Homo sapiens: one gene and its partners. The protein of the gene in region 2 purifies or fractionates together with the protein of the main gene of each other region. This does not show direct contact. Each region holds a gene or a part of one and is shown on either strand. Other genes may lie near its edges.

The links.
Region 1: the proteins of NGDN (region 2) and DDX10 purify together in Homo sapiens (affinity purification with mass spectrometry; one large-scale study listed by BioGRID and IntAct). This does not show direct contact.
Region 3: the proteins of NGDN (region 2) and ESF1 purify together in Homo sapiens (affinity purification with mass spectrometry; one large-scale study listed by BioGRID and IntAct). This does not show direct contact.

What each region holds. Positions count from the first base shown.
Region 1 is NC_000011.10:108,678,485-108,682,143, forward strand, and holds part of DDX10 (probable ATP-dependent RNA helicase DDX10), read left to right. Parts: intron 1-886; coding exon 887-1,076; intron 1,077-3,659. UniProt on the Homo sapiens protein: Putative ATP-dependent RNA helicase that plays various role in innate immunity or inflammation. Plays a role in the enhancement of AIM2-induced inflammasome activation by interacting with AIM2 and stabilizing its protein level.
Region 2 is NC_000014.9:23,472,592-23,475,735, forward strand, and holds part of NGDN (neuroguidin), read left to right. Parts: intron 1-2,579; coding exon 2,580-2,717; intron 2,718-2,966; coding exon 2,967-3,051; intron 3,052-3,134; coding exon 3,135-3,144. UniProt on the Homo sapiens protein: Part of the small subunit (SSU) processome, first precursor of the small eukaryotic ribosomal subunit.
Region 3 is NC_000020.11:13,778,384-13,782,042, reverse strand, and holds part of ESF1 (ESF1 homolog), read left to right. Parts: intron 1-3,659. UniProt on the Homo sapiens protein: May constitute a novel regulatory system for basal transcription. Negatively regulates ABT1.

The DNA of each region.
Region 1 (3,659 bases), on a different chromosome or scaffold from region 2:
GAGAGAGCCCTTATACATTTTTATGATAGAAATTTTATGTTAGATAAATGTTATGATTCAAAACAAACTTAAAAATTACTGAAACATTTTGGCATTTGGGCTCTAAACCCAGAAAGTAAAAGTAGACTTAAAAAAATCAGAAGAATGTATGTACGCTTATATGTGAAATTAGGCACGTTAGTATTAGACCATGCCAAGGTTTTTAACACCTGCTTCTAATAACTTGAAAGGTCAAATTGGCATTTTTTTAAATGAACTTTTTCTTTTTTGCTTGGGAATACTACCTGATGTGTATTTTTAAATCAACTTTATCTTTGAACATTTTTGATTTGTAGGAAAGTTGCAGTGGAGAGTTCCTGCATTATCCTTCAGCTGGTTTCCCCTAATTTTTTTTTTTTTTTTTTTTTTTTTTATACAGAGTTTCGCTCTGTTGCTAGGCTGGAGTACGGTGGCATGATCTCGGCTCATGGGTTCAAGTGATTCTCCTGCCTCAGCCTCCCGATAGCTGGGACTACAGGTGTGCACCACCACGCCCAGCTAATTTTTGTATTTTTAGTAGAGGCGGGGTTTCACAATGTTGGCCAGGATGGTCTTGACCTCTTGACCTTGTGATCTGCCCACCTTGGCCTCCCAAAGTGCTGGGATTACAGGCCTGAGCCACTGTGCCCAGCCTTCCCCTGGTGTTAATGTCTTACATGACATGGTACTTTTATCAAAACTAAGGTTAACATTGCTACATCATATAAATTCCAGACTTTATTCAGGTTTTACCAGTTTTTCCGCTAATGTTCTTTTTCTGTTTTAGGATCCAATCCAGGATACCCATTGCATTTAGCCTAATGTATATTTTACATATGATAGTTCAACTTGCATTTTCCTTTTTCAGTTCTTGATGAAGCAGATAGAATCTTGGATATGGGCTTTGCTGATACCATGAATGCTGTTATTGAAAATCTCCCCAAGAAACGTCAGACTTTACTTTTCTCAGCAACACAAACTAAATCTGTAAAGGACCTTGCACGCTTGAGTTTGAAAAACCCTGAGTATGTCTGGGTTCATGAAAAAGCAAAATATAGGTATGTACTCTTTGAGTCAATCAAGATAAATGTTTTTTACTTTTTTAGTTTAGGGATTTGGTATTTTAAATATCTGTTTTCTGGGAATTAAGACATTCTATGAGTTATTGGTTATGCAAAGCATAGTAAATATACCAGTTAAAATTACCCAAATTCTGCATATATCTTTAAATGTCAGGGTACTTGAATGTAGCATTTCCCAAAATGTGGTCTGGGAGGGGAACAAATGTTTTTCCATAGATGTTAAGAGGTATTTTACCATTTGCCAACACTACCTCTTAATAAACGAAGGGAGAAGGGATGAAATAGCAAATGGTGAGTCAAAGTGAAACAGTTTTATTTCTATTTCTCACAACCTTTAATATTTTCAGGGACATTGTGATTGTTGAAAGCAGTGGGAGGGAGGTGGATGTAGCTTGCTACATTTACCAAATTTTTTGGGTACGGAATCATCCTTTTTAGCAGGATTATGCAGTACTAATGTGTTATGGAACACATTTTATGAAGTGCATTAATATTTAGCAAAATACCTTTCAGTCTAAAATTCTAGCAACTATTGTTTTGTCTTGGTCTCATTAAAAACTAGAGCTTAAAGTATATGTGTTACAGTAAAAGTATGTATGTTTGTGATATGCAAGTAGTTGGGGAAATTTTTATTTATCTCTTTTTTTCGAGACAGGGTCTTGCTCTGTCACCCAGGCTGGAGTGCAGTTGTGTGAATATAGCTCACTACAGCCTTCAACTTCTGGGCTCAAACAATCCTCCTGCTTCAGCTTCCTGAGTAGCTGGGACAACCAGGGCATACCACCATGCGTGGCTAATTTTAAAATTTTTTGTAGAGTTGAAGACTTACTACATTGCCCAGGCTGGTTTCAAATTCCTGAGATCAAGCAATCCTCCCACTTTGGCCTCCCAAAGTGTTGAGATTACACTCAGGCATGAGCCACTGTGCCCAGCTGGGATATGTTTTAAGTTGTATTTTCATATGACAATTAGAAGCATATATATTTGGTATGAATCACTGCAGACTTCCAGGAGAAATGTTTTCCAGTAAATATAAAGTTGGATTTTTTGTTGAAGATAGCAATGTAAATTCAACTCTTCTATTATTTATATCTTAAAATTTTTATTTCTTCTTGCTCTGAAATGTTAGCCTAAAAAGAAATAGATTTGGAAAATGAATTGTGTTATCTGGAAATTCCTTAAATAGAGAAAATATGAGTATTCAGGCCCATCTTGACCTTGTATAATGTATGTCTAGGATTTAAAAAGCCTGAGACGAAGAGGCCAGATTCTTTGCTTCTGGGTGATCTTGGGGAATCTGAGTACTGGTATCTTTGACTTTCAAGAACTTGGGAATGGAATAGTAAGATATGTGAGGTATAGTTTTTTTCCCTTGGCTTACTTTCGAGTGGACATTGATCTCTTAAAGAGTTGAGATAGCTATGAAAATTTTTGTGACAATTAACAATTAACTTGAAAATGTAAAGACTGCTTGTCTAGGATTTTTCACTTTTCTCTTTTTTCTGTTTGCCTCCAGCCTATTTTTAATATTCATCAGACAGATTTTTTTAATCATTAGATGTCTCTAAGACCTTTCATAATTTATGCAAGTTAATTTGTACGTATTATTTCCTATCCCCAATTTCTGTAGGTAAGAGTTGGTTATTTTCTGTAAATTACAAAGTTTTAGAAAAAAACTACAAAGACTTTGATATTATTTCACAAATGATTTTTGAAACCCGGTCCCATCACTTATAAAAGTGTGGTGGACAAAATTTTCAGAAAAAAATTTTGGAAGGTAGACATGTATTGACATAATTTACAAAACCTCAGGTTATATGATAATGGCTGCAGTATTCTAATATTCCAAATTTATAGGAAACATAAAAAAGCAGATGCTCTTAGGAATTTCATCTAATGTCAATGTTAGCTTTTCCACTTTAGTAGCTTATCAATGTGGTTCATACACCAGGAGAGATAATAATCAAGAATATTTTAAGGTGTTAGAGAGTATCTACTCTCAAATTGTGAAGGACACAACAACTAAAGAAAAATTAGATCTTTCTGAAGTTGTAAGTCAGAGCATACTTAGAAAAAGTATACTAGTGTTTTCATTATGTGGTTATATATAGACAACTGGTATTTCTAATGATTTTATTTTTGAGAGAATATGCCTTTGGGCCATAGCAATTTGCTGTTTTTCAGTGACAAGTTGAATTCTATGGTGGATTATGAAAAATTTCAAATTTGAGATATGTCATGAGCTTATGTTATTAGGTATATACAAATTTAGAATTGCATTGTCAATTTGAAACATTAATCATTATGAAATGCTTCTTTTTTGCATGTATGTGCTTATTTTCTGTGGACAGTCTGTCTTTTTTGGTTTGGTTTTTTTGCCTTTTTCTTATTGGCTCGGAGGAGCCCTTTAGATAAATTAATTATTTATTTGTAATACGAGTAGCAAAACACTTCCCTACTCCCGGTGTTTTTTCATTTTATAAAATGTTTCTTTTCATCTTTACTAATTCTTTTTTGCCTTAAAGTCTAGTGTTTTTTGAGATGGAGTCTTGCTCTGTC
Region 2 (3,144 bases):
GAAGAACAACTCTGGATCTCTCATCCCTACTTAACTGGAAAACTCTGGTATTATCTGTTTTTATATATTGAGCTTTTGTCCTAAGATATTTAGGCCAAATATTCTATGGGTAAATACAAGTATGAAAATCATTGTAATAAGAGTCACTGAAGGAGTTTTAAGCACAGGAGTTACAGCAGATTTGTGCTTACAGAAAGATAACTAAAAACAGCATTCAAAATATATTCCCTTCTTGTCTTTATCATTCACTTATGTTCTTATTGTCCATTTTTATTTAAAAAAAATTTAAATCTTTGTTTTTCTCTCATATGCTTGTAGCTCAGTTTGAATTTGACAATGCCCAAGCACGTCGGAAGAGCCTGCTTCTCAAATTCTTACCTGTTTTTGTCCTGGGTACCATGCTTTTTTGTTTTGTTTTGTTTCGTTGAGATGGAGTCTCCCTCTGTCGCCCCGGCTGGAGTGCAGTGGCACGATCCTGGCTCACTGCGGCCTCTGCCTCCTGGGTTCAAGTGATTCTCCTGCCTCAGCCTTCCGAGTAGCTGGGATTACAGGCGCCCGCCACCACTCCTGGCTAATTTTGTATTTTTAGTAAAGACGAGGTTTTACCATGTTAGCCAGGCTGGTCTCGAACTCCTGACCTCAGGTGATCCACCCACCTCGGCATCCCAAAGTGCTGGGATTACAGGTGTGAGCCACCACACCAGGCCTTGGGTACCATGCCTTGAACCATTTCAGTGCCTTTTGGAGATGGATGAGTTGCCAGCATCCTTCTTAGATCCCTATATATTTGTTTATTTATTGAACAAATACATATTAACTTATCTTTTTGACCAAAGACTTTTACTAGGTGCTTTATAGGTTACAAAGTTCTTTCACATTATCTTATTTGGGCCTCATAATTATTCTTTGTGGCAGGGAGGAAATGTACATATTTTACTGATAAGACTGAGGTTGGCCTGGTGCAGTGGGTCACGGCTGTAATCCCAGTGCTTTGGGAGGCTGAGGCAGGTGGATCACGAGGTCAGGAGTTCGAGACCAGCCTGGCCAACATGGCGAAACCCCGTCTCTTAAATCTTAAACAAAGATTTAAATTTTTTTTAAATAAAAATGGACAGTAAGAACATAAGTGAATGATAAAGACAAGAAGGGAATATATTTTGAATGCTGTTTTTAGTTATCTTTCTGTAAGCACAAATCTGCTATAACTCCTGTGCTTAAAACTCCTTCAGTGACTCTTATTAACAATGATTTTCATACTTGTATTTACCCATAGAATATTTGGCTTAAATACAAAAAATTAGCCGGGCGTGGTGGGAGGCACCTGTAGTCCCAGCTACTTGGGATGCTGAGGCAGAAGAATCACTTGAACCCAGGAGGTGGAGGTTGCAGTGAGCCGAGACAGTGCCACTGCACTCCAGCCTGGGCGACAGAGTGAGACTCCATCTCAAAAAAAAAAAAAAAAAAAAGACTGAGGTCACAAGGTTAAGTGACTTACTCAATATTTGACTACCAAACACCTAATTCAGAACTTAAACTCAGTTTGTGGACTCTAAATCCTTTGCTCTCCTTCTATACCACAGTAGTGTTGATCTCAAGAGCTTAGCATGTTGGCTTAAAGACATCCAGGGATGAGGTGTTGGAGTCAGATTGAGTTTGAATCTTAGCTCTACTTGTATTACTGTGTTATCTTGGCCAAGTATTTAACCTCTCTGAAATAGGTTTTCTCAGGGCTGTGAAGTTTGGAAGATACATAAAAGCCCAAAGAAAAAAATGAAAAATCAGTATAATCACCACTCTGAGATAACCACTGTGGTAATATTTTTGAGATTTTTAAAATTATAAGAATAATATATGCAACACTTTTTCACACTCTAAAGTACACCATTTCTTCCTTTTCCTCATCTCACCCTAGGGGTAGCAGTTACTTGTGTGTTGTCTTGTAGACATTTTTCTATGTGTATAAAATGTATTCATCATATCCCCCCCTACACACACACACTTTCACAATTGAAGTCATATTACACTTTCTACAACTTGTGGTGACATGGATTTAATTCGATGTCATTATATATAAATCATTGTTTTTACCTGTATCATATAATTCCATTGTATGGGGGGAAATTGGTAATTACTTTGATTAAATTAATTTAAAACTTGGCAGTCTGTGGAGACATTTTTGATTGTTAGAGCTTGGAGGGGCCATCCGTGGGAAGAGGCCAAGGATGCTGCTGGAAACCTACAATGCCCAGGACAGCCCTCAACAAAAAATGTTCTGGCTTCAAATGTCAATAGCTCTGAGATTGAGAAACCCTGTTATAGTCTTTTTTGGGGGGGTAGTTTATTGATTTTCCTCTTCTCATTGTCTTCTATTAATTTTCTGAGCGTTGTTTCTCTTGTATTAGCATAACTTTCTCATTGGCCTTCTTAGGCATAGCTACTTCTTGAGACTATTCCAGATACCTAATATGAACTGATTGGGAAAATCTTGAACTTGGAAAAACATCCCGTTTACCCTAGGCTTTCATCTGGTTCTTTGGCTAAAACCAAATCTGTTTTTCTTTCTGTTTTGTTCAACTCAGGGTCTCAGCTTCTTGGAAGTGAAAGACCAGCTGCTGCTCATGTACCTTATGGATTTGACCCACCTCATTCTGGACAAAGCCTCAGGAGGATCTCTTCAGGGACATGATGCAGTTTTGAGACTGGTGGAGATTCGCACGGTATGAAGCATTTGGCTTCTTGGAGTTTTAGGTTTCTAAATTTTGAGCTCCAAGGGTATCACACAGTAGCTCTCATTTAAGTGAGTCTTCTCATGTTTAAGGAAACCAAATGAGAAAAGGTATTTTTCTATTCATTTGCTCTACTTTGTACATATTTTAGGTGCCTTATGTGGCACCTTAATATAGGGACTCTGGTGTGTGCTTCATTTTGGGAAGGAAATATAATCCTGATTAACTACCATGTTGTAGGTTTTGGAAAAGCTTCGTCCCTTGGACCAAAAGCTGAAGTATCAAATTGACAAGCTGATCAAGACTGCAGTGACAGGCAGCCTTAGTAAGTGAGGAGACCATCATGAAGTTGTGGGGACCATCAGAAAGTTCCAAATTTTGTAAAATTCATTGGGTTATTTATTTCAGGTGAGAATGA
Region 3 (3,659 bases), on a different chromosome or scaffold from region 2:
TAGCCAGGCATGGTGGCGCACACCTGTAGTCCCAGCTATTCGGGAGGCTGAGGCAGGAGAATTGCTTGAACCTGGGAGGTGGAGGTTGCAATAAGCTGAGATTGCACCACTGCACTCCAGACTGGCTGACAGAGCGAGACTCTGTCTCAAAAGTAAAATAAAATAAATAGGGTAAGTAGGACTCCGTCTCAAAAATAAAATAAGAGGGTAAGTAGAGTTGAGTACTCATTCATTAATTTGTTCAGTTGCTTTGCCACTAGTATGTGGCAGGCAGAATATGAGTAAGGCGTCGTCACCCATCTCAGGGCTGTCGCTAGCTTATATGATGCCTTTATGCAAATTAGAAAAAGGCATGCTCTCTGGACACACAGAGCTCCCAGGGGTCACACTTTGGTGAAGAGATGGCGCCTTTGAAGCAACAGATTTTTTGCCCCTGAGCAGACACAGCCCCCTCCAGAGTGCATGGCTTGGTGAGTGTAGGATGGCCTTGATTTTAGCCCTTCTTGTCCTTTTATAAATGCCCCTGTGCGGATAACAGCCTGCTAAACTTTGTGCAGTGGCCCCTGTCTAAAGCAACATTGTCTAGTAGAAATACATAATTTTGGATTTTCTAGTAACCACATTAAAAAGTAAGATGAAACAGGTAAAATTATTTTAAATAATATATTTTATGTAACCCAATATATCAAAATTATTTCAATATGTAATCAATATAAAAGTCAATGTATATTTTACATCCCATTTTCTACTCATTTCATACTAATACTATTTTCATATTAATGTCAAGTTAGACAAAACGCATTTCAAGTGCTCCGTTACCACATGTGACTACTGGCTACCATATTGGACAATATAGATCTAAAGTAGAAGAAAGTCAGAACCATAATACAAAATGCAATAATAGTAAGTGCCGTAAAAGATGTTTAGCAGAAAGCCATGGAAATCTGGAGGAAGAAGTCACTCAAGATGTGGTAATCAGAAAAATTCATAGGGGACGCACTACTTTGGGGTGTGGAAAAATTTAAGTTTGAGGACCAGAGTGTGCTACATGGAAAGAACTTTTTGAGCAAAGATGTGATTGGGCATGTTCAGAAGAGGTCAGTAGTCCCGTTTGATTAGATAATAAGGTCTTGAAGGGCCAAAATGAGTAGCAGCGAGAAATGATTGTTTGGAACTAGGTGAGAGACAGCTGGCTCTAGTTTGCATTACGTGTTTACTAATTAAAATTTTTTGTCACCTCCAGCAGCAAGCAATTTTGAGTGTTGATGTTGCTGATAGTTGAAGATGTAACTGAAAACCAGTAGTAGTTCACATGAGCCAGACCTGTGATTACAGGATCCAAGGAGGGGTCTTGATAGGCCGAGAGGTCTTGATAGGCCAAGAGGTCTTGATAGCCCAAGAGTTCTTGATAGGCCAAGAGGTTTTGATAGGCCAAGAGGTCTTGATAAGCAGAGATCACACTGTGAGGGTAGAAGGTATCAGGCAGTGGAGTGAATTCTGGATAGCAAGGACTAGGGAGTCAGTGGTGGTATCCCATTTTACATTTGTAGTGGAACCAGGCAGCAGACCTCTTGAGGTGTGGGAAGAAAGGATAGGAATCCGGTTACTAAAATTGAAGAATAAGATTGGAGTGGGACCGGCAGCAAAGTTGATTTGACACTGAATTAGTGAGGTAAGTTAGTCTAGCATCCACTTCATTTGGGGCACTGAATTAATATAACATAGCTATATAATCCTTTAGATTGATTTTACAGACTTTTTTACATATCTTTTCTCATTTAATTTTCTTAGTTACCTTGAGCAATAAGACTGTATCAGCGAACAAGATTAAAGTGACTTATGTAAGGACATGCAGACCTGGAACTGCAACTCAAGTCTTCTGACTCCTTCTACCCCACCACATTGCTTGCAGTAATTTTGTTGGTTCCACAGTCTAGGAAAGGCATTACTCATAAATAAGGATTACACGGCTCCATATATAATCTTCTGTTCATTATCCATTCATCAGTTATTACAGCAATTACTGTGTGCAAGGGCCTTTTTAAGTGCTGTGAAGTAAAGGTGATGTGAGGACTTGCAGTGTGATATTTGTCATCATGAAATGTTCATGCCCAGCACTTGCACTCCTCAGAATCTATTTTACATAAATAATTGGATGTGTGCAAAGAATGTGCATTGCAGCATTATTTTTAAAATAAAACGGTAACTGGCTGGGCACAGTGGCTCACCTTTATAATCCCAGCACTTTGGGAGACCGAGGCGGGTGGATTGCTTGAGGTCAGGAGTTTGAGACCAGCCTAGCCAACATGGCAAAACCCGGTCTCTACTAAAAATACAAAAATTAGCTGGGCATAGTGGTGCACACCTGTAATCCCAGCTACTTGGGAGGCTGAGGCACGAGAATCACTTGAACCCAGGAGGTAGAGGTTGCAGTGAGCCAAGATCGTGCCACTGCACTCCAGCCTGGGCAACAGAGCAAGACCTTGTCTCAAAAAATGAAAATAGAAATTAAAATGGTAACAAATCATTAAGAGATTAATTAAATATATGCAAACATCTGTGATCTATGAAGTTTTAAAAATAGGTTCCAAAATAACGATATGACCAGTTATTTTAAACAAATTAGTATTTAAATTAAAGAAAAGAAATTTAGGGATATGGTTGTATACTAAAATAACCAGTTATCTTTGAATGAAAAATTACTGCTAGTCACCTTTGTTTTATTTATTAACCATATTTTCCTAACTTTTTTTGGTTTGTAATGATCATTCATTATGTTTATAATTGGGGGAAAATGGTAAAGCAGTTTTTTTGGTTTTTTTTTGTTTTTTGTTTGAAGTAGCTGGATAAGTAGTAATGTTTACAGTCACTACTAGAGCAATACTGTCTAGGAATAGAGACATTTATATTTGTGTAACCCCACATTATCTTGCACAAGGCTGTGTACATTGTGGGCTCTAAGCAGATACTTTTTGGGGTTTTTTATTTTTATTTTTGGAGACAGGGTCTCGCTCTGCTGCCCAGGCTGGAGTGCAGTGGTGCAATCACAGCTCACTGCAGCCGCAACTTCCTGGGCCCAGGTGATTCTCCCACCTCAGCCTTCCGAGTCACTGGGACCACAGGTGCACCCCACCATGCCTAGCTAATTTTTGTATTTTTGTAGAGACAAAGAGTTTTGCCATGTTGCCCAGGCTTGTCTCAAACTCCTGGGCTCAAGATCCTCCCATCTTGGCCTCCTAATATGATGGGATTACAGGCGTGAGCAGCTGTGCTCGGCTGCAGATACTTATTGAATGAATAAATACTCTGAATGCAGTTGATATTGTTAAAAACATTGAAATGGAAGACCTCTTTAAGTCTCTTATGCAACACTTTATTATTATATAACCCAAAGTGTGGTATGTGTACCATTGTCATAAGTGAGAAGATTTTTGATGATACTCAAACTTCTAAAATATTAATAGTTATGTACTGTGTCAACATCTTAGAAAACAATGTAATTACCCTATCACTTCTGTGACTTTAGGAATATTGTTTAGAGCAAAACTAACTTTTAAAAAATTCAATTTAATAAAAAAATGATATTCAAAAATCATGAAAATGGTATAATGACTGACAGTTGAGAAATATTGCAATACTAGATAGACTGGGTCTGTAAG